Regions from separate parts of the Homo sapiens genome. Here all the other regions are linked to region 2. Evidence: fine-mapped expression QTL. A gene starts in region 2. Each other region holds a variant in brackets. All regions are shown on one strand. Distances are from middle to middle.

The links. PIP is the estimated chance that this variant, and not a neighbour inherited with it, causes the effect.
Region 1: its variant is the best candidate, but not a certain one, in a credible set for the expression of CASP4 in whole blood (INTERVAL, PIP 0.75).
Region 3: its variant is the best candidate, but not a certain one, in a credible set for the expression of CASP4 in skeletal muscle (GTEx, PIP 0.73).
Region 4: its variant is the best candidate, but not a certain one, in a credible set for the expression of CASP4 in whole blood (TOPMed, PIP 0.52).

The regions. Positions count from the first base shown.
Region 1 is chr11:105,188,488-105,196,331 of GRCh38, reverse strand. All of the region lies in intron 4 of LOC105369468 (a long non-coding RNA gene), which reads left to right. It also overlaps the pseudogene OR2AL1P. Among named protein-coding and RNA genes, the nearest start is that of CARD18, 53 kb to the right of the region's middle. The variant T/C (reference allele first, on the strand shown) is at 3,210.
Region 2 is chr11:104,965,778-104,973,279 of GRCh38, reverse strand. CASP4 (caspase 4) reads left to right here and starts at 4,706. Exons shown (of 9, transcript NM_001225.4): 1 at 4,706-4,761. The coding sequence starts at 4,755. It overlaps LOC124902813 (a long non-coding RNA gene), which reads right to left. Exons shown (of 2, transcript XR_007062986.1): 1 at 5,120-7,502; 2 at 4,700-4,995. RefSeq lists an enhancer at 3,707-4,906.
Region 3 is chr11:104,939,968-104,947,411 of GRCh38, reverse strand. It overlaps CASP4 (caspase 4), which reads left to right. Exons shown (of 9, transcript NM_001225.4): 7 at 220-329; 8 at 2,561-2,664; 9 at 4,439-4,546. The coding sequence ends at 2,659. Among named protein-coding and RNA genes, the nearest start is that of CASP4, 25 kb to the left of the region's middle. The variant G/T (reference allele first, on the strand shown) is at 2,894.
Region 4 is chr11:105,220,842-105,228,685 of GRCh38, reverse strand. All of the region lies in intron 4 of LOC105369468 (a long non-coding RNA gene), which reads left to right. Among named protein-coding and RNA genes, the nearest start is that of CARD18, 85 kb to the right of the region's middle. The variant C/T (reference allele first, on the strand shown) is at 4,056.

The DNA.
Region 1 (7,844 bases), 220 kb before region 2:
TAAATACACATGCAAACACAGACATATGCCAACTATTTTTTTGAGGAAAAAAAGCTAGTTGTAAATCATCATTAATTTGTGCCTATATCATTTTTCCTTTCTTCCTGAATATACCAGTGTTTATTTCCTAAAAACAAGAACGTTATTTTACGGACCACTGTATAGTTACCAAAATCAGCAAATTTTATATGGATACAATATTATTATCTAAATCCATAGTCTACATTCTGATTTTTCCAATTTTCTTAATAATGTTGTTAATATCTGTTTTTTTTTTCCTGAATTCAGGATCACACATTTAGATATTGATATGGGTTGGCTGTTTCCCCACCCAAATCTCATCTTGAATTGTAAAGCCCATAATTCTCATGGGTTGTGGAAGGGACCCACTGGGAGATAATTGAATCATGAGGTGGTTTCTCCCATACTGTTCTTGTGGTAATGAATAAGTCTCACGAGATTTGATGATTTTATAAGGGGTTTCTCCTTTCACTTAGCTCTCATTCTGTCTTGTCTGACGCCATGTAAGACATGCCTTTTGCTTTCCACCATGATTGTGAGGCCGCCCTAGCCATGTGGCACTGTGAGTCCATTAAACCTTTTTTGCTTTATAAATTACCAGATCCTGGGCATGCCTTTATCAGCAACGTGAAAACAGACTAGTGCAGATATAATGTTTCATTGATCTCCTTTAATCTAGTCTAGTTCCTCAGCTTTTTTGTCTTCGTTGGCCTTGATGTATTTGAAGTGTACAGGCGAGCTTATTTGTTAAACTTTTTTCAGTTTGAGTCTGTTCCATGTTTCCTTGTTATTAGAATTAGGCTGTGCACTTTCAGCAGGAATAACATTGAAGTGATATTATGTCCTGTTCAGAGCATCATATCAGCAAGCATATGATATTGGTCTATTACAACATTGGTGAGGTTAATATCGATCATGATATCAAATGATCTGTTTTCTACTGTAAAGTTTACTATTTTTCATTATGGAACTAAGTAGTTTGTGGAGAGATATTTTAAACTGTGTAAATATTCTTTTCCTTATCAGATTTTCATCCAATAGTTTTAACATCCATTTCTGTTTTTCTAACTCCATCATTCTAGTGAGGATTACTTAGGATTCTACTTAAGAAATAGCTTTGTCTTCAGCATTTATTTCTTTATTCTTTTATTTTTTATATTGGTATGTGCTTTTATGATTCTTTGTTTGTTAAATTCATTACTATCACAGTTTTTCTCAATGTTCAAATTATCCTAGAATTGAACAATAGTAGACCCTTCAAAATGACTTGTTTATTTTCCATGATTCTCTGTGATTTTTGGAGCATTTTCTTACTTTTTTTTTCTTTTGAATGTATATGATTTTTTTTGCTCAGGTGACAGAAAATGAATAATAATGGGAAATATCAACATAAGTCTTGAAAATTACTTTATTCTACTGGGTCTTTCTAATTGACCTCCTCTGGAAATAGTTATTTTTGTAGTTCTCTTGATATTCTGCTTCATGACACTGATAGGCAAGCTGTTCAGCATCATTCTGTCATACCTGGACTCCCATCCCCACACTCTCGGTACTTATTCTCTTTTCTGGATTTCTGCTACACCATCAGTTCCATCTTTTAATTACAGTACAATCTCTGGGGCCCACAGAAGAACATCTCTTATGCCAGTGGTATGATTCAAATTTATTTTGTTCTCACACTGGGAACCATGGATTGCGCTCTACTGGTGGTGATGTCCAGGACTGTGATGCAGCTGGACACAGACACTTGCCTTATACTGTTGTTATGGCTGTGGCTTTTTGGGTAAGTAGCTTTACCAACTCAGCATTTGATTCCTTTTTTACCTTCTGGGTAACCCTGTGTGGACATCACTATTATGCTTACATCTTTATATTTACATCATTGTTAGTATAAAGATGGTTCATTAACAGAAAGAAACAGTCTGTGTTCTCACTGAATCATGCAGCTTTATTAACATTATCTTTTCCATTATAAAATGACTGCTTCCAGGAGATTGAAAAGAACATGTTAAGAAAAGCACAGCATTGGAGAATCTGAAAGCATGTGATCTTGTTCAATTAAACCAAGTATCAAAAACATGCATTTTTATGAGACTATTTTAGGAAATTCATCATTTAGAATGAGGTTAAATTATGAGGGGCAAAACAAAAATAAAAAATAATATTAACTTAAGTAAAATAAAAATTTATTTATCTCCCTCATAAAAAGAATTTCAAAGATAGGTGGTCTGAATGATAAGCCACTTGAGGTGCCTTTACTGGTTCCTTTTAACTTATCTTGGCCTTTGATTTCCCCAAAATAGATCAAGATTCTGCTTGAGCTCCATCCTTCACACTCATTCAGTATAAAGAAGGTCAACTGCTTCTTTTTTTTTCTTTTTTTTTTTTTTTTTGAGATAGAGTCTCGCTCTGTCACCCAGGCTGGAGTGCAGCGGAACAATCTCAGCTCACCGCCACCTCCGCTTCCCGGGTTTAAGTGATTCTCTGCCTCAGCCTCCCTAGTAGCTGGGGCTATAGGCACGCACCACCATGCCCAGCTAATTTTTTTTTTTAATTTTTAGTGGAGATGGGGTTTCACTGTGTTGGCCAGGATGGTCTCGATCTCTTGACCTCGTGATCCACCCGCCTCAGCCTCTCACAGTGCTGGGATTACAGGTGTGAGCCACTGCGTCTGGCCAAGAAGGTCAAACCCTTCTTTTGAAAGATTTGTCCCTGTACTTCTATGAGGAACAAATTTTATATATTTTTAAATTTTGTATATCTATATATAACATATAAATTTAAATATAAAATATTCAATACATTTTAAAATATTAAATTTATACATTTTAAAGTATTAAAATATTATATTTTAATATATGGTATATATTACATCTGTATTTTATGTATATAATATATAATATGTATATTTTAAAATATTAAAAAAGATAAATTTATATTTTATATTATATATATACACACACACACACACACACACACACAGAGTATAAGGCATTGGCTCACACTATTATGAAGGCTGGGAAGTACGAAGAACTGCAGCTCAAAATACCTGAGAACCAGGACAGCCAAAGGTATATGTGTCAGACTGAATCTTAAGGCAAGAGAGTACTGATAACCCAGTTCAAAGACCATGAGACAGAGAGAGTGAATTCTTTGTTGCCTAGAATTTTGCTCTATCCAGACCTTTA[T/C]TTAACAGATGGGATGAGCTTTGCTCACATTGGTGGAGGACAGGAGCAGGAGCAATCTACTTTACTCAGTCTACAGATTCAGATGTTAATCTCAGCCATCCAGAAATATCCTCACAGACACGCCCAGAATCATGTTTAATCGAATATCTGCTCACTTCATGACCCCATCAAATGGACACATAAGAGAAACTGTCACAAGGCCCTTCTCTTTAAAGTCTATTGATCCAAACGTAGTGACAAACAATGATGGTAAATTTACCATATATCCTGGAAAGCCATATGCCTACATAAAAATCAGAACTTCTATTGATACAGAAAAATTAGAGAACACATATTGGTGTACGTTTAGCAATATCTGCCTCTGAAGAGAACTGACAGTGAAGAGTGAAAGAGAAAGGAGTTTCCAGGAAATAAAGTGGATTAAGCTTCCTGAAATATGGGAAATAATATATCATTTATAAGAATTATTATTTTCAGCATTTGTTGATATTATGGTTTGGTGAAAATTATTACGTAGACATTTTCTTTTCATTCCAGTATATTTTTTTGAAAATTTCTGTTGTACTTTGAGATATTTAATATATATGCTTTACCTTTTTTAATGTGTAAAAAACTTTAGATGTCTCATGTCATTAATTGAATTTTGAATATTCCAATGTAATTTCCCATAGACTATACATTTAAACTGCATATTTTAAATACTGAGTTTTCACTGCTACTTAGTGGTTTTAAGTATTTTTAGATAATATCTTTTGGTTTCTTAGCTTGAAGAATGAGGATATGGCTCTTTTTCACATCCCTGCACTACCTTATACACTCACACATATGCACACAAGAAGAACTGATAAATTACTTTATGTATTTGACTACAAAGAAACCAGTGTGTGTGTGTACATGTGTGTGTTTGAAATATCTCTCCTGAAATCTTTACTCCTCTTGTTCCAGTCTAAACTGGATTTTTCTCTAGTCTCCTCTTTACACCCTTTTGTGTTAAATGCCCTGATTCCTGGGTCCTTCCTAAATCTATTCCTTCGTTTTTTATGAAATATATACTTCAACAATGTTCTATAGATACTCTGTAACACAGAAAAAGGTGCACAGAGAAAGTTAATTTAAGCCCTTGCATGTTTGAAAATATTTTTATCCTTGCATTTAGTTTGCAGTGAGATTCATAGACTTCCAGGAGAGAAAAGACTTTCCCTCAGAAACTGAATCCATTGTTCAGTTCTTTTTTAGTTTCCAGTGTTGCTTGTTAGAAGTAAGAAGTCATTTTTATTCCTTTGTATAAGCCCTTTGTATGTAACCCATTTTTTTCCTTTCCAGATGCTCTTAGGACTTTTCCCAAATGTCCTGAAATTGTATAGTTATGAAGAGTAGTCATGAGTATTGATGAATCTGAGTCACATTGTGGATACTCAGTGGACCCTTTTTTTTTGTGGAAAATCTTATCCTTCTATTCTGGAAAAATTTCTTAAGTGATGCTTTCATAATATCCTCCCCATCATTGTCTCTCTCAGTGGAACTCATTAGTTGGCCTGTTAGACTGAGCTTTTGTTGTTGTTGTTGTTGTTAACCTTTTAGAATTCTATTATTTTAAAATTATTTTTTTCACCTGCAAAATTTTCTATTCATTGCTTTTCAACATTTCAATCATTTGTTTTTATTTTTGTCAAAAGATTTCACATTTCTAAAAATTTGTATTCTCTGAATACTCTCATATCATAAATGTAATATAGTATTTTTAGATTTGAAGATGAGAATTATAATTTTATATGAGTGTTTTTTATTCCCCATATGATCTCTGATGTTTTTATTTGTTCTTTTTTCTATCTTTGGATTTTCATGTGCATTTTTTTGTGTTTTGTTTTTAAGGAGCTTCTCAAATACCTGGTGATCCTTGGCTGTCCAATCAAAATAAGTAGGTCCTAACATTCTAATAGGAAGATTTATGTATGTGGTAATGGCTTGTTTAATCATGAATTTGTATTTAGGTAGGGTACAAGGTTTTTGTTGTTTTTTTTTTACCTTTTATTTTAGGTTTAGGGGTACATGGGCAGGATTGTTGTGTAGGTAAACTTCACGTTGCGGGGAATTTGTAGTTCTCTATTCTACAGGGCAGTTTCCTCAGAAAGAAATCCTCCAGTCATCTGCCAACAACAGAAAAGCATAGAGGCCAGAGTAGTGGGAGGCAGGCAGCCATGGGGGCAAGAGGACCTCCATTCAGTACACCCTCGATCGCCTGGTTCCATGTGTCCAGGGGGGTGCCTCATCTTTGACCTTAGCTGGTCAAGATGTCTCCAATTCACAGTCTCTGTAATTCAACATCTTCAGAGAATAATCCTTTTTTTTTTTTTTTTTTCCTGCAGAGCTCAAGAAAGGGCAATTGACTAGTTTGTTGGACTTGGGGAGAACATCAGGGCAGCTACCTGCTCCTAAAGACACTTTCAACAAATCTTTTGTTTTCTGTCCCACTTCACACTCTGGCTTTCAGAGATAATTTGCGACTCCAATTTTTGACACTTTCCATGGTTCTGTACCATAAATCATGATTTTTTTAAATTGTCATTACCCAAGCTGTCATGTTCTGGATTTTTCATGTATACACTCAGTTACTATTCATCTGTATGCTTTCTATATTCCAAAAATAACATTTTATGTACTAAAATCTGTTTTCTTTGATTTTTTGCTTATATATATTCAAAAATAACTTAATGTCACTTTAGTTGGGTTTTCAGAGAGACCAGAAATGCCTGTTGCCTATGCACCATTTATAAAATTGAAAATCTTCACTTAGTTTCCAGTAATATATTTTATATTTGTTGTATTCTATTAAAAGTGCTCTTGTGAAGTCACCAATAACCACTGTTGTGCCAGAAACAATGTAATCCTTCCAGTGACATTGATCTTGATGACCACAAATCACTTAAAAAATGTCACTCCCTGACTTCTCTGTCTTTAAGAACCTCCCATTCTCTGACCCTTTCTTAGTCTCAAATTGTTCTCAATCTCCTTGTACTCTAGTGTTTTTTTGCCTTCCTGCCAGTCTTGGTGTCCACTGAGATTCTGATTTTATTCGATCCTAATCTTATCCTACATAATGAGTTATTCTATTTCTCTGATTATTTTCACTACCAATTGCATCATGGTGACCCACAATCTGAATCTCTATCCCTGACTGAATTCCTGATCTTCAGACACATATGCCCCTCTAATGTGCAGATATTTCAATCCTGCAAACAGCTTAATTTGGATGTCCTAAAATAATCTCAAAGTAAAGCTAATAACAAACTCATCATCACCTACAGCATGCATGTTTTTTTCCCGTGGGTGTCGCAATTTAGTAGATGACTGTATTCAGTAATTCAAGTATTTCAGAAAAGGAAATTACTCAAGAGTTTCCCCTTTCTCTCTTATTTATCATGTCCACTAGATTATTTACAACTTAATTTTTGATTTACTTCAGATTTTACTTCTCACTTGAGCCTATTACTTCAGCTCAACCTTTTAGGTTTATCTGATATTATCTCTTTCTCTTTGAAACCACCTCAATTAATGCTTTCAGAATGAACTATCTAAGATTTAAATTTGGGAATTTAGTTGTTCTAGCATAAATGCTTCAGTGCTAACTGCTACTTTTACTTTAAAGACCACACTGCTTAGAGTAGGATGCAAGAGCCATCATTACTAGCCATTATCTCCCCAAATACTCTCATCTCCCCAAATTCTTCCAGCTTAACCCTAGTGGATAAAAACACACTTGTAGATTTCTGTAAACTTGATACTGTCTTATATTTCAGTGGGTGTATTTTTATACCTTATTTTTTTAAACCTTTCAGATTTTTTTTCAACTTTAAATTCAGGGGTACATGCGCACGTTTGTTACCTGTGTGTATTGCATGATTCTGAGGTTTGGGTTGAGAATGATTCCATCAATGAAGTTTGGTATTATATTGGCTGTGGGTTTGTCATAGATGACTCTTATTTGAGATATGATCCTTTCATGCTGAATTTCTTGAGTGTTTTTATCATGAAGGGATGTTGGATTTCATCGAAAGCTTCCCATGTCTATTGAGATAGTCATATCATTTTTGCTTTTAATTCTGTTGATGTGGTGGATTATATTTATTGATTTGTATATTTTGAACCAACTTACGTCCCAGAAATGAAGCCGACTGGATCATGGTGAATTAACTTTTTGATGTGCTATTGGATTCAGCTTGTTAGGATTTTATTGAGGGTTTTTACACCTATATTTATTACAGATATTGGCCTGTAATTTTCCTTTTTCACTGTGTCTTTGCCAGCTTTTGTTATCAGTGTGATGCTGGCTGGCTTCACAGAATAAATTAGGAAAAAATTTGTCTTCCTTGATTTTTTGCAATAATTTCAGTAGAATTGATACCAGCTTTTCTTTGTAATCTGGTAGAATTTCGCTGTGACAGCTGGGCAGGGTGGCTCATGCCTGTAATCCCAGCACTTTGGGAGGTTTAGGTCAGCCTATCACTTGAGGCCCAGTGTTTGAGACCAGCCCGGTCAACATGGCAAAACCCTATCTCTAATAAAAGTATAAAAGTGATTCAGGTGTGGTGGTACATGCCTGAAATCCCAGCTACTCGGGAGGCTGAGGCAGGAGAA
Region 2 (7,502 bases):
TTGGGCACGCATTGTCATTGATAACATCTTATCATGAGACAGGGTTTGAGAGCAGACAACCAGTCTGACCAAAATTTATTAGGTGGGAATTTCCTCATCCTAATAAGCCTGGGAGCACTATAGGAGACCGGGGCTTATTTCATTCCTTATGACAACCGTAAAAGACAGACATCCCTAGAGCAGCCATTTTAGAGACCTCCCCCTAGGAACGCATTCTGTTCCTTGCTGAGAAAAAGAATTCAGCAATATTTCTCCTATTTGCTTTTGAAAGAAGAGAAATACGGCTCTGTTCCGCCCAGCTCTCAGGCAGCCAGACCTAATGGTTATCTCCCTTGTTCCCTGAACGTCGCTCTTATCTTGTTCTTTTTTCAAGGTGCCCAGATTTCATATTGTTTAAACAATTTGTGCAGTTAACGCAATTATCACAGGGTCCTAAGGCGACATACACCCTCAGCTTACAAAGATGATGGGATGAAGAGATTAAAGTAAAGACAGGCATAGGAAATCACAAGAATATTGATTGGGGAAGTGATAAGTGTCCATGAAATCTCCACAATTTATGTTCAGAGATTGCAGTAAAGACAGGCATAAGAAATTATAAAAGTATTAATTTGGGGAACTAATAAGTGTCCATGAAATCTTCACAATTTATGTTCTTCTGCCATGGCTTTAGCCGGTCCCTCTGTTCAGGGTCCCTGACTTCCCACAACACCAGAGTTTATGTGAAATGGAAGTAAATCATCTTTGTGCACATTTACATTAAGAAGAAAGAGCCCAAAGGTTGAACCACAAACTATAGAGTTCCTAGGTCCTATTATCTTTTCTGCCTGCTTTAAATCTACCATTACTTTTCTTCTGAGATAAAAACCACTCTTTGTCTTTGTTTCTGTTAGACCGCTTTTCATTTCTGTATTGAGTATCTTAAGTACTGTAGAAAAGATGTCACTTCTTCCTTTAAGGCTGTCTTGTAATATATATAAGGACTGGAATTGTGTTTCTAAAGAAAAGCATTCAAGTATGACAATATACTACCTGTGTTTTCACCATTAAAAGTGCTGTTTAGTAGTTTAAACTTAAACTATTTAATGTCATTTAATAAAGTGACCAAAATGTGTTCTTTATTGTATTTTCACAGCTTTGAAAAAATAAATAATTCAACCATATATCCCTAATATTTCACAGCCTCCTTAAGAATGTATAACAGTCAACAAACATAAAAGAAATAGCAGACAGAGTATGAGATGCTGAAGAAACACTACAGTGCACTGAATGCAAAATTATGCACTTGTGTTGTGCAGGGGAAATAGTTTGGGGTTAAATCAGTCACTCAGTGATGTGAAGATTTTGAAGAACTGGAAGAACTACAAATTCAGTTGCAATCATGAGCCTTTTCTAATCCCAAACTCATTAAAAGTGAAGGCGAATTTCTGACCTCTTGCAATCCTTCAATGTTAAGCTTCATACTGCCATTTTATTTTAATATTTTTTTAAGTTCTGGAATACATGTGCAGGATGCGCAGTTTGTTACATAGGTAAACGTGTGCCATGGTGGTTTGCTGCACAGATCAACCCATCACCTAGTTATTAAGCCAAGCATGCATTATCTCTTTTCCTTAATGCTCTCTCGCATCCCCCATCCTCTTATCTGGCCTCCATGTGTGTTGTTCCCTTCCCTGAGTCCATGTGTTCTTATTGTTCAGCTCCCACTTATAAGTGAGAACATGCAGTGTTTGGTTTTCTGTTCCTGCATTAGTCTGCTGCGGATAACATCTTCCAGCTTCATTCTTGTCCTTGCAAAGGACATGATCTCATTCATTTTTATGGCTGCATTGTATTCCATGGTGTATATGTGTCACATTTTCTCTATCCAGCCTACCATTGATGGGCATTTTGATTGATTTCATGTCTTTGCTATTGTGAATAGTGCTGCAATGAACATATGCATGTATGTAATGTATCTTTATAATAGAATGATTTATATTCTTCTGGGTGTATACCCAGTAATGGTATTTCTTGGTCAAATGGTATTTCTGTTCTAAATGACTCACCACACACTCTTCCACAATCATTGACCTAATTTACATTCTCACCAACAGTGTCTCTTGAATACAGCACACTGATGAGTCCTGTCTTTTTGTCCAGCTTGCCATTGTGTGTCTTTTAATTGGGGAATTTGGCCCATTTATTTTAAGGTTAATATTGGTATGTGTGAATTTGATTCTGTCATCATGATGTTGCCTGGTTAATTTTGCAGACTTGTTAATGTAGTTGCTTCATAGTGTCATGGGCCTGTGTATTTTAGTGTGTTTTTATAGTGGCTGCTAACAGATTTTCCTTTCCATGACTACTGTTTCCTACAGGATGTCTTTCAAGGCAAGCCTGGTGGTGACAAAATCCCTCAGCATTTGCTTGTCTGAAAAGGATTTTATTTCTCCTTCACTTATGAAGCTTAGTTTGGCCAGACATTAAATTCTGGGTTGGAAATTATTTTCTTTATTAATGTTGAATATTGGTCTCCAGTCTTTTCTGGCTTGTAGGATTTCTGCTGAGAATTCCACTGCTAGTCTGATGGGCTTCCCTCTGTAGGTGACCTGGCCTCTCTCTCTGGCTGCCCTTAACATTTTTTCCTTTCATTTCAACCTTGGAGAATCTGACGATTATGTGTCTTGGGATTGATCTTCTTGTGGAGTATCTTACTGGGACTGTCTGAATTTCCTGAATTTGAATGTTGACCTGTCTTGCTAGGTTGGGGATGTTCTCCTGGATGATATCCTGAAGTGTGTTTTTTGACTTGGCTCCATTCTCCACATCTCTTTCAGGTACTTCAATCAGTCATAGGTTTGGTCTTTTTACATAGTCCCATAGTTCTGGAAGGTATTGTTCATTGCTTTTTATTTTTTTCTGTAATCTTTTCTACCTGCCTTATTTTAGCAAGATAGTCTTCAAGCTCTGATACTCTTTCTTCTGCCTGGTTGATTTGGCTATTGATACTTGTGTTTGAATCATGAAGCTCTCACGCTGTGTTTCTCAGCTCCATCATGTCATTTGTATTCCTCTCTAAACTGGTTATTCTAATTAACAGTTCCTGTAATCTTTTATCACGGTTCTTAGCTTCTTTGCCTTGGGTTAGAATATAATCCTTTAGCTCAGCAAAGTTTGTCATTACACACTTTCTGATACCTACTTCTGTCAGTTCATCCATCTCAGCTTCAGCCCTGTTTTGTGCCCTTGCTGGAGAAGTGTTGAAATCATTTGAGGAGAAAAGGCATTCCAGCTTTTGGAATTTTCAGCGGTTTTGCGTTGGTTTTTCGTCATCTTTGTGGATTTATCTACCTTTAATCTTTAAAGCTGTTGACCTTTGGATGGGATTTTTGTAGGGTCTTTTTTGTTGATGCTGTGTTATTGTTGTTTTATTTTTTTTTGTTTTTCTTCCAACATTCAGGCCCTTCCTCTGCAGGTCTGCTGCAGTGTGCTGAGGATCTACTCCAGACACTGTTCACCTATGTATCACCAATGGAGGCTGCAGAACAGCAAAGAGTGCTGCCTCCTCCTTCCTCCGGAAGCTTCTTCCCAGAGGATCACTGACCTGACGCCTGTTGGAACTCTCCTGTATGAGGTGTCTGGCAACCCCTGTTGAATGGTCTAACCCAGTCAGGAGGCCCAGGATCAGGAACTCACTTAAGGAAAGAGTCTGGCTATCCCTTAGCAGAGATGGTGCACTGGGCTGGGGGAATCCCCCTTGTCTGGATCGCTGATACTCTTCAGAGCCAGCAGGCAGGAAAGATTAAGTTGGCTGAACCTGAGACCGCAGCTGCCCCTCTCCGCAGGTGCTCTGTACCAGGGAAATGAGAGCTCTGTCTGTAAACTCTAGGTGGAGTTGCTGAAATTCCTGCAAGCATTTCTTGCCGGGAGAGGAGGGATGGATCCCGGTCCCACCTAAAGAAGCAGTCTGGCCATGATCTGCCACAGCGGCTGTGCTGCACTGTGAAGACTGCTGCCCAGTCCAATCTGCCCAGCCTCCCTAGCACTGGTAGGGAAAAACCGCTGACTAGAGCTGCAGTAATGGCAGTCGCCCCTCCCCTGGGGAACTCGGTCATCTCTGGCGTACTCCAGGCTGCTATGCTGGCTAGTGGGGATTCTAATCCAGCGGATCTAAGCTTGCAGGCTTCTGTGAGAATGGACCTGCTGCAAGGCCATTTTGCTCCCTGGCTTCAGCCCCCTTTCCATGGGAGTGGACGGGACTCCTGCCTCACTAGAGTTCCGGGAGCTGCTGGACTATGTAAAAACTCCTGCAGCTCAGTGCCTGCCCAAAAAGCTGGAAATATGAACTATTGGGTTAATTCTTATCAGGAAATGAAAAAGAGTTGTTAGATTAAACTTCTTCAGTCATTGTCGTTCTTTGTAATCAGAGAAAGAAAAACTGAGAGATCAGGAAGAGAAGAGACAGATGGATAGAAGAAGTTTGGGTGGCCACAGGAAACAAGAAAAGAAACAAGCTGAGGTGTCAACCCACAGGATAATATTTTGTCATTTTCATTTTTTTCCCCCAAGTCAGAAACTAAATTCCAGTAATTGGATGCCAATTTGCTGATGACAAGGCACTTCCTGATAATGAGTCTGGAATTCTGAGCAGCAGTTTCACAATCTGTAATTACACGTTTCCGCCCTTTGCAATAAGGAAATACATAGTTTACTTTCATTTTTGACTCTGAGGCTCTTTCCAACGCTGTAAAAAAGGACAGAGGCTGTTCCCTATGGCAGGTGAGTCCTTTTCTGACTAGGAGTTTGGGAGTAGGAACTTAGAAAACACTTGATTTATTGCTCTGAAATAAACACAAGAAAGGAAGTGAGCCGATAGCACACATGTTGAATTCCTTTTCTTACTGATTGTGTGTAGTTTGAATCATGGGACCTGGTGTTAGAGATATTGACGGAGGTCATATGTTTTCCAGATGTCTTTGAGCCAGAAAGAAGTTAATTCCTTTCTTTCAGCTTCTGGTAATCAAAGGGAGGGTAAAGAAAGCCAGAGGAAGTTATTTGTGTGAGACAATTCTAGAAGTTTCGAAATGCACTCTGAAATCTTTCTTTTGATTCCAAATTAATTGCCCAGATCACAAACCTTTTTCGCAGAATCAGATCTGAGAGCCTCTGAATTGTTATCTTCTTCGACATCTCTTATTGTGAATTACATTCTTGGTCTGTTTAAAGTGATTCAATTTTTTCCTCTTTCTCGTTGGTCCTGATACTGACTACTTTAATATAATATTTCATGGGTTAATATCACAGTTGTTTTGTTTTGCCGTTGTTATTGTTTTTAACTGGTATCCTTCCCTCCAGGACTTAACTCTCCAATCCATTCTGCACACAACTTTTAGGTCACCTGTCTTATACACAGAAGCTGAAAAAGCCTAAGGGATAGAGTTACTTAGGCAGCTAGTATTCCAGCAGGTCATAACGCTTCTTTGGCTTCATTCTCCTCACAGGAAAAGGAAGAAATTGGACTAGATCAGTGAATTCTAAACCTTATAACATATCGCAGCAATCTGTAGTCATATAAAAAAAGTCAGATGACTACCCCCTTCCTCACCGCGAATAGCTCAATCTTAAATACCCTGCAGGCATTTATTACCTTTGAAGATCGTCACATAATTCTTATGAAACTGACTTGACATAGGTTTGTTCTATTAGGAAAGTTGACCAGTTAGTTAACACTCTCTGCTTATCTGCTAGTGATCTATTAATGTAATTAACTTTGCTCAGGGACATACAGTGGCTCCCTATTGCCTTTTCTCTTTTTTACTATCTGAACTTTCAGACAATTTTTTCTACCTTTTGAAACATGTGTATCCAGTTTTTCCATTAATCTTTGTAAAGCATGATTTCAACTTCATAAAAAAATACTGTATTTACTTCACTCATATTACCTTGTTGTTGTTTCTTTACTCCTTTGATTCTCCCTATAGAACAATTCTCTCCGGGGTTTATGTCTAACTTCACAACATTTAACTTAAGCTCTGGAATCAAGGGATCATTAGATAAAGATAGGGTAAATTGAAAGCCACTAGTCAAAAACAAGTCGTGGTTTGATAATTATAAACAACCAAATGTAGACAGCTATTATTACCTTAAACTCTTGAGGAATTGTATCCTGTAATGTGTTTAAGCATTACATCACTTTGCCTGGAACCAAAACTGTGGTCCTGATAAGTTTTTTCCTCTAATTGATTCCTGCCATTTTTATTATCACTGCAGCTTTCATTCAGTGATTATTATAATAACAAAAAATAATCTATAGTAACCATTTCTTTAAAAAATACTTACCATATGATAGCTAATTCATGCACTCTCTCTGATTTAATATTTAACATCAATCAATACAGTTGTGCTATTATTTCCATATTGTAGTTGAAGGGGATACTTAGAGAATGCCTCCAAAATATGCTTTAGGTCAAAAGTCTGTTGAGAGGAGTGGTCTCAGGTTGGCATGACTCTCAAACTCTGCCATTAATCTAACTTTCTGCAAACATCTTCAAATACTTGCCCTGTCTCTGATCACTGCCACTTCAGTCCTGGCCTCACATTTCTATTCCTTCTAAAGCCCAGCTCTCCCAGTTTTCTGGTTACACGAGACACCCTCAAGCCTTTGTGCTTTTTTCCTTACTGCTCTCTGCCAAAAGACCAGCTCCTAGTTTTCCAGGGGACAAATTCCTACCAGTCCTTCAGGTCTCAGTGCCAAGCCCTCCCTTCTCTGGACAGCTGTACCTGAGACACACTTTGCTTATGCTTTTCTTGAGCTTCTGCTAATTATTTACATTCTTATAATATTTTTCATTTTACTTATTTGCATATGTATTTTTCCACTTGACTGCAAACTTCAAAGTGTACAGACATGCTGCCAAAGTGGTACCCCCAATAACAGCAGAGTAAGTTTCAAGAATTTATGCTCATTAAATATACCTGAATGGATAGGGGAATGAACATGCCTTCCTTCTGTTGAAATATCCAACATGCAACTATCATCTATTAAATGAAATCAAACTTACCTGGTTTGCTATTAAGAATTTGTAATCACCAGGTGGGTTCACCTTGCCCACTGCTTAGACAGAGCCAATTTATCAAGACAGGGGAATTGCAATGGCGTAAGAGTAATTCACGCAGATCCGGCTGTTCTGGAGAGGGTAGTGTTATTATTACTTAAATCAGTCTCCCCGAGCATTCAGAAATAAGAACGTTTAAAGATAATTTGGCAGCTAGGGGCTTGGGAAGTAGGAAGTGCTGATTACTCAGGTGGGAGATGGAATCATAGGGTGTCAAAGTGAGGTTTTCTTGCTGTGTTCTCTTCCTGGGTGTGATGGCAGAACTGGTTGGGTTAGATTACTGGTTTGGGTGGTGTCAGCTGATCCATTGAGTGCAGCGTCTGAAAAATATCTTAAGTGCTGATATTAGATTTTATAAAGTGATATTATCCCTGGGAGCACAATGGGGACATTCCAATTCTAGGA
Region 3 (7,444 bases), 26 kb after region 2:
CAATGCTTACCAACTGCAACTTTTGATCACCTTTTGCTAGGTTTTCTGTTTACGTTCTGTGGAAAGTAGGTAAATGTCAGGTTGTAAGTGCTTCCTACAAATCTGTAAAGATAATTCCCAAGCTATGCTTTTCTTTTTAAAAACATTCTCAAAACAAAAATATGAACAAAAACATAGTGAAAGTCATAGCCCAAGGCATACCCATCTGTATCATTATAGACAACGTGTCCTGGAGAGACAGCACAATGGGCTCTATCTTCATCACACAACTCATCACATGCTTCCAGAAATATTCTTGGTGCTGCCACCTAGAGGAAGTATTTCGGAAGGTAAGTGTCTCTTTTCTAGTTACTCATTTATTTCTTCAGGAAGAATTTGTCATGATTCACTTTTTACTTCACAATGACAATTTTTGTCAGGGAAGTGAAAGTAGAGAGGTACCCAGTTTCTGTCATTCAGTTGTTTAAAATATGGCTAAGGAAAAGACAATTCCAATATATCCCAGCAGAAGATCAAAGTAAAATAAAATAATATCAACCATAAGCTTTATGTTATGGAGCGTAAGTTCTTAAGTTTTAGAGAAGGAAAAATATTTTGAAATAATTTTTATTTCTTAATTTATTAAATGAATAAAATCTGGGTGGTCTGCTAGGTCATGGATTTCCTCCTGGTGACAGAGGGGTAAATGAGGCCTACATGACGTAATCCTATCTAGGACTCACATTTTCGTGGGAGATATGGATACTGAAAATGTGGGTTAACAAACAAATATGTGCTTACAGATTGTGATAGGATCCATAAAGACATGTGAGAGGGAACAAAAAAGAAGTCATTCTTTCAATAAAAAAGTGCAGAAGGAAAGGTTTGCTACTTCTTGCCCAACTTGGGACATTCCTTATTCCCACTACTTCCTATGTTATTTTTCTCCATAGCTCGTACATCTACCCACTCAGCAAATATTAATAGTTTATTTATGTGTCTGGTTTTTTACTTGTATTTACTCACTAACATGCAAACTTCGTGATGGCAGGGATTTGCTCAGCAATTCAACAAACCTGGCACGTAGCAGATATTCAATTAATAATTATTGAATAAATACATGCATAAATACACAGATAAATGCACCCTCTTGTTTAAAGAGAAAATGGGATTGGTATTAACACAGAATAGTATAATTATTAATAAAGTAAAAATTGTAGAGAACAGTAAAACTCCTGCGGGAAAAGAAAGATACACCTCTGGCGTTTATAGAAGAAAGCCATCCAGAACCAGCACAGTCACTCATTCCTGTAATCCCAGCACTCTGGGAGTCCGAAGGAGGGTGGAGTGGCTTGAACCCAGGAATTTGAGGCCAACCTGGGCAACATGGCAAAACCCATCTCTACAAAAAATACAAAAATTAGCCGGGCATATTGACTGGAACCTGTAATCCGAGCTACCTGAGAGCTGAGATGGGAGAATCGCTTGAGCTCAGGAAGCGGAGGTTGCAATGAGCTGAGATTTCACCACTACCCTCTAGCCTGGATGACAGAGTAAGACCCTGTCTTAAAAAAAGAAAAAGAAAGAAAAGTAGTGAAATAAGAAGAAGGAGGAGGAGAAGGAGGAGGAAATGCAGCATAAATTGAGACAGAGCTCCTGTGAATAGAGATCTGGGAAGTTAAATCTTTTAAATCTTCTTGGATAAGTGGGAGTTAGACATTGTACTTTCAAGGATGTTCATAGAAAAAGGAACTAAAAATTCTGGATTTAGGATAAGTAGACTTACCAATTAGTTGATGCAAAAAAACTACAAGATCAGCTTGGTGGTGGAGATATGAAAGTTGTTCAGTGTTTGGGTCTTAAAGATAAGATACTGGGGCTGGGCACGGTGGCTCACGCCTGTAATCCCAGCACTTTGGGAGGCAGAGGCAGGAGGATCATGAGGTCAGGAGTTTGAGACCAGCCTGGACAACATAGTGAAACCACGTCTCTACTAAAAATACAAAAAACCAATTAGCTAGGCGTGGTGGTGGGCACCTGTAACCTCAGCTACTTGGGAGGCTGAGGCAGGAGAATTGCTTGAACTCTGGAGGCGGAGGTTGCAGTGAGCCGAGGTTGCACCATTGCACTCCAGCCTAGGCAACAGTGCAAGACTCCATCTTAAAAAAAAAAAAAAAAAAGAAAGATAAGATACTGGGATTAAATTCTCCTTCAATTGAGGAATCAGCCTTGGTGAGTGTTGAAAGTACAGAGTCCTTCCTTATCTGGTTTTCATGAATAGTTTTCAAGGGATAACTTATTGTCAGATCTGTAGGTCAGAAATGGAAAATAGAGGAAATGAATGTTGAAAGACCTTGGATTAGACATGAGGTGTTTATTTTGATGTAAAGCATACAGTCTGACATGGAGTGGCAATTCTAAGAGGTAGGGTACAATGTTGAGGAGTTAGAATGCCCATGGGCTTGGTTCTATGAAACCTGCAAGCTCACTTCATTCCAGGTGTTGTCTGGTACATGGTGAAAGATGCTTTCTGAGACTTGAAAAGAGTCGTATCTCATCTACAGCCTATTTTCTTTTTCAGGTACAGCAATCATTTGAAACTCCAAGGGCCAAAGCTCAAATGCCCACCATAGAACGACTGTCCATGACAAGATATTTCTACCTCTTTCCTGGCAATTGAAAATGGTTAAGTATTGAGAGTTGTTGGTGGTATGTGAAATAAATAAGAGAGTGATATTGGTGGTTAAGTTCAATGACAAATGACAGCTGAGTACTTGGATGGTCAAATTGGTGTTTTTGTTGATATAGTCTGGTGATTATCTGCTACTTCTTTCCGACTTACATGTATTTGGATTCCTCCAACTCTACAATTAATCAGGCAATCAATCAATCAATCAAGGAGGTAAGGAAAACC[G/T]CAGCAGAATGTGATGATGAAAAACCAAGGATAGTAATTATTAAAATAGAAACATGCTCATGCTTCCATTACTATTTATATTCATTTATCTCTCATAGTCTTTCTCTTTTATTCCCCTTTCTTACACACACACACACACACACACACACAGAGAGAGAGAGAGAGAGAGAGAGACACTAAGTAGCCAAACATTGCATCAAACCCTAAACAAAACAGAGTAAACAAAGGAGCTAACTCTGGAGAAAGCAGCATTTTGATCCTCTGAGTGAGGATGTCACAGCAAATACCACATTACTGACATCCAGATACCATTACCAGATGGTACAGAATACATCCTACACTGTAGAGTTTGTGTTGATCCAGGCTCTGGTTCTCAGACTGTTCTCACAATGCAGATCACCAATCACTCAGGGTTGGCTTTTGAATCTTCAATCACAGTCCAGAAGTTCCTTCAAGCTCCCATGTAACTTTTGTTATTATTTTGACCAAAATATTATAGAATGGGTACATTGAGTCTGGACTAAATGATGACTTTCTTCACTCATAATAGCTTTATTTAACACTAGACTATAAGACTATTATCAATCTCCCTCTAAGATACATACTTAAAATTATATTTTATAGTGAAATGTATAAAGTTGTTCTCAATACTTCCAACATTTACCACATAATTTTTACTCTTGGTTTCTGACACTTCAGTCACAATATTGCATCATTTCAGCATAACAGCTTTCAGTGCCTAATCCATCCAGTGGGGCTGCATTTGGACATTGAATTGTTTGTTGACTAATATTTGCCAACACTAACTGTGCACCAGGTTTTGTTCTAGATGCTTGGAATATGCCAATTAACAACGTAAATAGATTTCTTACACTCTGAAAGCTTATATTCTAGTGAGTAGAAACAGACTCTGAAGACATAAAGTGGTAAATATATCACAGGCCGGAGAGCAAAAAAAGATAAAAGGAAAAATAAAGGAAGACAAAGGAAAACACAGAATGATGGATGCTGTACTCCTATAGATATTTCACTCAAAAGCTTTTCTTGAAATAATGAAATCAGAACAAAGAATGGACAGAGTTGGGGAGTGAATAATGTGGTTCTTATGCAGGAAAAGTGTTCCAGCACAGAATACAGCCAGTGCAAATGCCCTGGGATAGCAATGCACTAAACATGTTTAAAGAACTGCAATGAGACAGTGTGACCAAAAGAGAACGTGAGTGGAGAAAATGGCAGAGACAAATTAGGAGAAGCAGTGAGAAGCCAGATCGCGTGGTTCTATGTTATCACATGGTAAACCTTTAAAAATTATTATCTGAGCGAGACAGGAAGCCTTTCTAGTGCTTTAGAAAAAAGAAGTAATATGCTTTAAATTAGGTTTTACAAAGATCACATTTTGGTGAATAGACTAAGATGTCACAGATGGAAGTCAAGGGAAGTGGCAAGAGCACATGGAAGAGGATGCAAGAAGAATCATGATGAGGGATGGGATGAAGGCAGCAAGGGGTAACCATCTTGACCTTCTGTTTTTTCTCTCCCCTGCAGGAAGCCACAAGCAGCCCAGCCCTCCTTAATCAACTTCAAGGAGCACCTTCATTAGTACAGCTTGCATATTTAACATTTTGTATTTCAATAAAAGTGAAGACAAACGAACTGTGTCTTTTTCTAATAGAGAATATAATCTCAATGAAAATGGTGGGTGAGTGGAAATGAAGTGGAGGAAGCTAACTGGATTTTCGAGCTTTATGGCTCATGAAATATCTATACTTGGCTGATGAAGAAAACTGACTGATTTATCCCCAACAATAGGATGAAAGATGTTGCCGAAAACTATAGTGAGATACTGCCTCATACCCATTTGAATGACTCCCATCAAAAAAAGCCCCAAAAAACAGAAAATAACAAGGGTTTGAAGGGATGTAGAATAATTGGAATCCTGTGCTCTATTGGTGAGAATTTCAAATGGTACAGCCACCTTGGAAAACAGTATGGTATTGCCTCATAAAATTAGAAGTAGACTTACCATATGCTCCAGAAACTCCACCTATGGGTACATAACTAAAGTAATTGAAAGCAGGGTCTCAAAGATATATTTATACACCCACATTTATAGCAGCATTGTTCACAATATCTAAAATGTGGAACTATCTGATAACTGATAAATGGATAAGCAAAATGTGGTGTATACACATAATGGAATTTTATTCAGCCTTTAACGAGAAGGAAGTTCTGACATTTGTTACAATATGGATGAACCTTGACATTATGCTATGTGAAATAAGGCAGCAATAGAAAAACACATACTGCATGATTTCACTTACATGAGGTACCTAGGGTATAAAATTCATAGAGACAGAATGTAGAATGGTGATGGCCAGGGACTGTGGGGAGGAGGAAATGGGGAGTTATTAGTTAATGATATAGAATTTGAGCTTTGCCAGACAAAGAGGAATTCTGAAGGTAAATGGGGGTGACACTTATATGACTTTATGAATGGATTTAGTATCAAACACTACATTTAAAAATGTTAAGATGGTCAATTTTGTGGTATGTATTTTTACCACAATAAGACATTGGGGACAAAAGGGATAACTGGAGGTGAGAAAAGATGGAGTAAATTGCACCCGGGAAACTCTGATCAACTTACACAGAAGAGAATTAAGCTACTGTGCAAAACTGATGAAAGAAGAAATGAGAGTAAAGTATATTACTTATTATTTCAAAATGAATCAAGGAAATAATCGGAAATCTCACCACCATCAAATATTATGTAGAACAAGAGAGAGATCTGGCAGTGTGAATGAGCTATATTTCATTTTTCATATAAGACAGTTAACCACTTTTCTACTGTGATAAATCTTAGCAAAACTAGGGGTCCAAGCATATACGTCTTTTTCTCCCCCATATGGTTCATCAAACTGAGTTAGGCAACTTTACTTTCACACACCTGTGATGCCTCAGGAGCCACCTTGACATACACATGTCAAGAAAATTATTAATTCTATATCTGATGATGTCTTGATTCCACTTTCACCATACAAAGCAGAGACCAAAGGTGTCACTCACAGATACTCATCTATTCTGCCTTAGTTGTTAAATAACTGTCTAGTCATTCATGTGAAGACCCTCTTGTTTCCCAAGTGATGTGCATGGTTTCAGGTGACTTACATCTTTAACAGGACTTATTATCAATCAGTCAAGCATGTGGAAAAAAAATTCAGTAAAGAGTATCCAACACATTGGGGTAAAGTTCTCCAGAGAAGGTGAGGCTTTTTCAATGTCCATCTTTCTTTAGGTTCACTATTTGGAAGTTACCTTAACACAGAAGACTCTCAAGCAGTGTATTCTCCCTTCCTAGGTAACAGTGCTTCTAAAAAAATAGCATTGTTTGAATCCCATCTTCCTTGGTATTAATTACATAGGATAAACCCAGGGTGGGAGGGCTATGGGTAATTCTCATAGATTATTAAATCTATGAGAGTATATATAATAGAGTAACCTATGAGTGTATATATAATATATATACACTGAATTAGTAATCATTGAATTCCTCTATAGTACAAAATATTTTCCTTAAACTGTGAGCAATAATAGAGAATTCAGTGGAAAATGATCTATGCTGGAGTACATTAGAATTTGACTCCACATAGAAAAGGTCTGCAATGTTGGGATCATTCAGCAGTCCAATTTGCCCAGACATCAAGTATTTATAGAATAGTGGAAGCAGAGGGCAGAGAAGCAGAAAAACAAGCAAGGCACATTTGGGTCCTACCTTAAAGTGGGTTTTACCTAGAAGTATGAAGTACATAAAACAGAATATATCTGAATAATTGTAAATGTAAGCTTTGGTGTAAGATCCTTGCTTTTATAGACTGACACAGCCACTTAGTACTTGGTAAATTAATTTCATTTATTTAGCTTCTCTGGGCTTTCTTTGAGTTCCTTACTAATAGATGTGAATATAAATATCATTGTTCTAAGGATGTAATGAGTTAATATAGGCAAAATATTTAGCATAGTCCAGAATAAAGAAGGTGTTAAACAACTGCTATCATTAAAGATATTTCTACTTTGTAACTTAACTCAGTTAACTTCCTTATCAAGGTTTAAATAAAAGTCATTTGAATCTTTTCATTCACCATGTTTGGCAGTTTCCTGGGACTTGCATTCTCTTGGTCACCTATGGCCTGAAGGTCTTGGCTCTGCTCATATAGTTAAATTACATATTGTCTATAATGAGATGCCCTCCCTCAGGAGACAGACTGGTTCCACATTGTGCTGACCATATCCTAAGGTAGAATTAACTTTTTCCATGATCAAAAACGATGATACCACACAAAAGACCCAAACATTTCTAGCTTCAGTGTAATTAGTAGACTTTAATATTAGATGGAATTGTTCTTTAAAATCATTTGATCCCAGCCTTCTGCATGACTTTTGCCTCTGTCTTTGCAGCCCTTTGTCGGTCCACTGTTTTCTCAACATCAGTCTTGCTGGTTTCTGTCTCTTTCTTTTCTTTCACTACTTTTTACTCCTCCTTTCCAGATGACT
Region 4 (7,844 bases), 260 kb before region 2:
CACCTAGCTGTGTAAACTTTATGACTTTTGCAAGTTCTTTAACCATTTTATACAACTGGTACTAACAATTATCATGGTAATTACTATAAGGTATTGTTGTAAGGTTTAAATGATTTGCTGTAGTTAAAGAGTTTGGCATATAGTAGGTCAACCTTAAATGTTAGCTGCTATCATTTTTATATCTATGAAACAACCCGAAAGTCCTGCCTAAGGTCCAGAGATAGGAGAGGCAATTTCTGATTAGGTTGAAGTAACAAAATTTCATTTAAGAACTAAAGCGAGCCTCCATAGAAAGTTCTTTGAGTCCTGAATAAACTTGAGCCCTAGACGTTGCTAGGCACCATAAAGGGCCCAGAGGACATATATTGGGCCAGTTTAAATACTTTAACAGGTTTAATTCTCTTTGAGGAGAAATGGAGGCACAAGCGAGCAACAGTGCGAGTTCACCCTCTTCTTCAAGAGAGTTACAATACTGTTGAGGTCATAGTATTGTTGAGGGCCTTGGGCTCATATTGGATGATATCCAGATGCCCTTGGCATCCCATTTGTGTGAATTAGAACCAGCCAAACACCTAAGGGGCTCCATTTTACAGTTTGACACTTATTCAAAGATTCTATTTTATCCTAAACAGCATAACGTTTAAGATACTAATTAAACTTAATTCTCCCAGGTATTTTTCCACTTCTTTTACTTCTCTCTCTCTCTCCCTTTATAGAAGAAATAATTTGTATATAATAAAAAAACCATTGGCTACCTTAGAGATTCATATACAGGGCTATTTTATATGGATAGAAAAATATGGTAAGTCTTTAAATAAATAGCTTAAATTGGTGGTTATAATTTGCTTCAATTGTTTACAGTAATTGTATAAGAAAATAACTTGATTATTTTAAGAACTGTTTCAATAAAATCACACTTCATGTTTATCTACTGCTGCCCTCCATAGGAAAGGAGATCAGTGATGCCCTTTTTCCCTGCTCCCCTCCTTGTTTCATGCACAAGGAAGGCTCTGGAGCAAAGGGCTTTACAGCACTGTCTGGAGTTCTCCCATCTATTGATTGAGGTCAGTGGTACTGATGTGGTCATACTTCCTGAATGTAGACTCTCCCTTACCAGGAGGAACATACATAGAGCTGTACTGAAAAACACATGCTGAGAGTGGTGGAGGTCAAAATTAAGGTGAGGCCTCAGGAATGAATGGCCTTTCAACCCACTTTTGATGGCTCAAACCATGTACAACTTAGGCAAAAGGAGTTCTGCCAATGGTTTAGCCCAGCTCATTAAACACTTTCTTTGTGAACAGAGCTAATAGGTTGACAGGATGGCCCACAGCCCCCAGGAGCTGTAGCTGGCCTCCAGGCCCTTACTCACATTCATTCTCTCTCTCTTCCACCACAGATTGTGCCCCATGGATGGATTTAAATGTATCTTTGGAATGAGTGATTAGAAGAAGACAGAAACTGGGTAATTCCGAGTTTTCTGTCAAATACTATATTCCTAATATCATCCTATCTTCAGCATTTTACTTAGTTCATGTGAGTTTATTCCAGATAGAGTCTACTCTGGTCCACAAATTAAACAGTGTTTGTTTTTTTCTCAAAGGAAACTTTTGAAGGTTATCTATCAGCCTCTGTACTGGAGAGTTAGCCTCTTGAATCAAGTGAGCTAAAGTACACAAAATTGACCCTTCACTGCTTTTAGAACTGTCAGTTTTGCAGAACTCCTCACTTACGAGTCATTCTAAGTGACATTTGCTTCACCTTTCTTTGAAGCTCTTATCACATAGACGCTGGTGCTATCAGCTGAGCTATTATGGGGATAACACATTGAAGCTGCAATAATTTCTAGTTTCCATCTTCAAAAACAAAATACATTTGGTCAAGTATGTGTTAGCCTTTTTCTTTCACATACAGATTCTCAGTTTAAAACTCCTTTGTTTCATCTTAGTAGTCTCCCTTTACTCTCTACACATCCCCAGGCCCAATAGTTCACTACTCCTATAAATGGAGAGAGATTGTACCTTTTTTATGATATATTAAAAACACAAACTGTGTATTTGTGTGGATGTACAGTCAGAGTCTCTCAGTCTGAGAGAAATTCAAGTGTGATAGGCTTTGGAACTTTAGGAGGCTCTGCTGGCTTGAAGTATTTTGGGCTATTATAGACAGAAGCCTATTTTCCAAGGGCTACAATTAGTAGCCAATTACAATATCTGTAACAGTGAAAGATTTCACAATGCAATGCAATGCAAAGTAAAGTTGGACAAGTAACAACATTAAAAAGACATTGATGTGATCCATTGCAAACTTTGGACATGTCATTCTGTTTAGGTTCTCTTTTTCTGCTTAGTTAGACTTTGCATCCATTTCCCTCATTCTTAACTACTGAGCTTTTTTGCTCCATTCCTGCCTCCTGAATCTTCCCAGACTCTCCCTCCTGGCTACTTTTCAATTCAACAAACCCCACATTATACATAACACATTACATTCTGCTGAGTACTGTAAAGAACATTAATAAATTACAAAGCTGTTTTTGAAATATGCATAGTCTTGTAAGGGAGACAAGATTTAACCAATGAACCAATTCAAAAAGTGCCAAATGTAATAGAATCAAGAGGCAACGCTCATAGACTATCAATAAAATGGTCAATAAAGAATCAAGTTCATGTTATTGTTGGCTGACAATTTGCAAAATGCTTCTCAAAGTTACCGAACCCAGCAATATAAAGAGGGGAGAGAGCCTGACTGAGCCTATGACATTTCACAGACTTCATCTCCTGGTTCCTAATCAATATTATATTAAAGAAAAAACAAATCAGAATGATGGAACAGCCTAGCAAAAATTCAGACATGATAGTGTGTCAGAGTGTGCCAAGGAGGTGCATTTGAAGGATCTGGTTCTTGTGGGAAATGGCAGAAGATAAAGTCATATTGCCTTTTTAAAAAGCATTTTCTTTAGACCACTAGTCTAGAAACGTGGTATAGCATACCCCTCCTAGATATTTGCTTGCTCATTAGCATATTAAAATATCTGGAGCCTTAAATATATTCAGATGTTAACTTTCCTTCAACTCATCATTTTACAAATTTCCTTGACCACAAGCCATTAATGACCCTTATTATATAAACAATTTCTTATAGGCTATGCTTTAGGAAATGTGGGATGATGTATATCAAGTAGAATATAAGAAGTCTAGAATGGCAGCATAGAGTTGATTTTTTTAAATAGGGAAAGTTATTGAGTAAGAAACTTAGGTGATCCAGTTTACACATTAAGGACACCCTTCTGTGTGATGAACTAGAGAAAATAAAAATCTTGAAATCAAAGACCACTAAGGAGATAATTGCAAGATGTTTGTTTGTTTTTATAAATTTGAATAGGTTGATGGAATTTAAAATAAAAAAACAAAGGAACAATTCTTTGGGCAAGAGAGATGTGGGCAAAATAAATGGTGTCAACATCAAAATAATGAAAGAAGTAACAAAACAAGATCACTGAAAAGAAAGAAGCTGTTGGGGGGAGGGGGGCATGACAGGAGCTAAGCCAGTGGGAATACTATCTTGATATAGGCTGTAAAAATAAAGTTGGGATAAACGTGTTTAGACACAGATGGAGAACACTCAGCCCCAAGAATGCAGTGACGTCAAATAATGAGCCAGGTTTTTGTTTTTGTTTGTGTCTTTCTGTATGGCTCTTAGCCATCAGTCTTATTATTTAACAGGCATACATGTTATGATCCCCTAAGGAGAGAAGGTGATTACAATAACCTTGTATATTTAAGAAAAATTGAAAATGTGGGGTTTGATGTTTTTTATTTTGTTTTCACTATTTTATGGTATCAGAAATACCTGAGGTCCATGTTTCAAGTACCAATTAATGGACAGGGACCCAATAATCTGTCATTTTTTAAGCACGCTAAAGTGGAGAACAACTGCAGGATCTGCAAAGCTAACATACCTGAAAATTGCTACTCCTTGCAGCAGCTGTGAGAATGTGCCTGGCTGATGTCCCAGAGCAGGAGGTATCAGCCAGCAGCAATAGCCCACAACTGCTG[C/T]ATTCCAAAATTCAATTTGTCCTGCCTTGAATTGAAGACCGTGCCTAGGCTGCTTCTGGCCAGTACCTACTGCTGCAAGAATACTAAGGCAGACTCACTCTGGGGAAAGCAGGGGCCCTTTGAGTGCCAACCATTGGCTTTGTCAAACCTTTCTTGGAAGATCTGGCAGGCTGGGAAGATTTTGAAAACACCTGCCCAGGCTTTCTCTCTTTCTCCTTCAGTCATGGAGATGCAGTTCTTTTTGCACCCTGGTCTGATAGCTCACCCAGTCTTCCTGAATTCCTGACAATTTTGTCATCCAGACAATTTTCCTAATATGGTCCATGCATTTTTAATTCCTTCTTGTTGTCTGCTGCTTGGAAGACATACTAACACCCTTCTTTGCAGTTTGAATAAACTATGATGAACATAGTTTCTCTATTTGCTAATGACACTTGTTGTATATTCTCATAATACAATTAGATTGCATAGGTTCATTGATTCAGAATCTACACAATAATTTTTTAATAATAATATCACTTTATTGAGTGTTTATGATGGATCAGGTAGTGGGTAAGCCCTTTACATCTATTATTATAATTAGTTCTGTGCTGGTGAACAGCCTTTAAAAACAAAAAAAAAAATGTATTTTAGCCAATTTATGTGGTTGTAAACACTCCCACCACAGCCAATTTCAAGCTATTAACAGGATTAACAACAAGCTGGTGAAATGTTTGATAAGTTAGTAGCTGGCTCCTGAAGGTTTGTAGGAGCCTACCTCAACACACAAGACACACTGTAGTCCTTTTTATCAGTTTTGAGGTAGGGTTTAATCCTAGTTTTACTGTTGAAGACCCACAAAAAATATTACAGAAGTTAGGCAATTTGTCCAAATCACAGGCTTGAGATTTGCATCCAAATCTGAAGGACTATTAATTGAACTACTTCCTAGGTGTCTCAAAGACTCTCTGAATCCCAAATCATAGCTAATTTAAGCCAAATAAAAGGAGAGAGAAGGGCTTAGTGAAAAAAAACTCAGATATGTCTCATAGAGCTCAAGATCAGGCAGCTACACTTCAGAGACTTATGAAGCCACCTGGATTCTCCTCATTGCTTCCTGGCTCCTTCTGTTCCACTCAATTTATCTTTATGAGACTACCATCATGACCTGTTTCTGTGTTTCATGTGGCAGGTAGAAAGAGGCTCCTGAGCTTATGAGCTCATGTTTTACGTATAAAATAACTCAGAGAAAATTTCTTTCTTTCTACTCTTAAGTTTAGAAGTCCTAGGAAGGTATTCTTACTGGCCCAGTTTAGGTCAGATTTCCACCACGGTTCTATCAACTGCATTTTCCCTGTGGGTATGGTGAGAATTAAAAGAGGAAAGGTTGTAACCTGAACAGGTGCCCCAAATGGAGTCCACAGCATTGTTTTACATGACAAAAAATATTGTTACATTTGTAATATAGTAATGTGTGTATGTATGTATATGTATATATATATATACATATATTTAAATAGTACGTTATCTCTTTTTCAGTACAAGTACTTAGGCACAATAATCTCTCTGAGTTACTCATTTTTAATTTTTCACTCTTATATTACCCCTAGGTTTTATGAGTCTTATACATTTTTATTTCGTTAGTATATTATTTTTCTTAAGAGATGGGTTCTTACTCTCTTGTCCAGGCTGGAGGGCAGTGGTGTGATCATAGCTCACTGTGACCTTGAATTCCTGGGCTCAAGCGATCCTCCCACCTCAACCTCCCAAGTCCTAGTATTATGGTTGTGTGCCATCATGCCAGGCTAAATTTTGAGTCTTGATAAAGTCAAAATCACAATGATTTCTTTACTCCTGACTAAGCCAAGTATCGAGGGTAGATGGGCTCAGACTCTTTGAGTGGCTACCATAGATTTCAAATCCCCTTAAACATGCATATATGTTACACATGCATTTACTTAAAAGCTTATCTTTATACCAGCCGTCATTCGCATGTTACAAACCAATAACTTGCTACGTATCAAACAAAAACCCATTTTTCTTCCTTATTTACTGCCCAGGAATGGGAAAGATAGATAACTGATCTCCTCAGCCAGCCACATATATTTAATACTAAGTAAAATAAATGGTGTTTATTACACTGAGAATGGGGGAGGTTAATGTATATTTTAAAAGAGCATAATACAACTTTATAACAAAGATATGATATGATTTATCCACAGGAAGGATACAAATAAACAGAAACAAGCTGAACAGGTTCTTAAGCTTTAATATAATGGACAGCACCATTTAATAAAATATGTCAGGATTTTTAAGAATCAGAGAAAGTCGTTGTGGAGTTCAAATGCAAAACACAATCTTGTAAAAAGTCTTCTTTTTCAGAATATTTTTGGCTAAATATAAGAGACTAGCTCTCCCAGATATTTAAATAAATAATAAAGCTACAATAATAAAAGCAGCAGGCTATCAACCAGTAATAGGTTAATACCCAATGAAACAGAATAGATAATACAGAAATAGAATCATATAGAGATTGAGCATATGATAAAACTGGCACTTAACCTCTATGGGGAAAAGACAGATTATTCAATAAATCATTTCGTGACAATTAGCCATTTCAGAGGAAAAATAATACTGAATCTCTATTTTTGTTCAAAGATAAAAATAGACTCCAGATGAAAAAATACTGGCAAAACAAGAGGCCAAAAACTACTAGACAAAAACAAGAGTAATTTACATTTTTGATAGTTTTTAAAGGGGCAAAATAATTTTTTAAAACAGGAAACAAAGTCCAGAAGCTTAGAAACATGGCTTAAATATATTTTAAAAAACTCCCTTTTACAAAAAAAAAAATCTACAATAAAATTAAAAGATAAGAAAAGAGGTTAAGATTGTTTCTTTTGATTCCTAAATTGCAAGTATTCCCAAGGTGATGCTGTGGCAAGTCCACATGGCTTGAGCACATGAGTTGGATACACTGGGTCCTCTATTCTCCAATTTTCACAGTGGTCCACCATGAGCAAGGCTCTTCTGTTTGTGGAAGACCTGATATCAGGGAGCATCTCAGACACTTGAGCTGATAACTAGTAAACTGCAACTTCTCACCTGGAATGGGGACTGTCTTACATTGTCTAATTTTTGCAGGGATTTCCAATAGCCCTTGACCTCAGGGCTCCCTCTCTTAAAATATTTTGCTGCTGTTGTAGTAAATTTTTTACTTTAGGTGAATTTCTTTTCTGGAACTCTCTCATAACCCTCCCTATCCTCCCATCAACATGTGCTTTAGTTGTTAGTGGTTTTTTTTTTTTTTATTATTTCAAAATCTTGGTTATTCATGGAAGTGAACTATGAAATAATTCTGAAATGAGCCTATACTTTATAATTATCATACCCAATAAGCAGTATTCATACTAATAAACAATATATTCACAGGTATTTCAAACTGAAATGGAAATTATAATAACTGTGAGCAGATCAGGAAGCCAGGGACTCCAGTGGGGGAGTTGACAATGTACTGCTAAATCCTCTCTGCCATACAAAAGACCAGTTTGAGCAATCTTTCTTACCTTCATTCTCTCTTCCATAAATGAATATAATAGTAGTGCCTTCAAATTTAATTTGTTTTTATGAGCACTAAATAAGATAATATATGTTTGACAACCTACTACAGTGTTTAGCATCTAATTTCTGAAAAATTACTAGGCTTTTTTCCATTAGGTACATTTTTCAAGCAAAATTACCCAATCAATCACTAAAAATATATTAGTGTAAAGTATTAACATCTATGAAAGGGTGCTATGGTGAGATCCA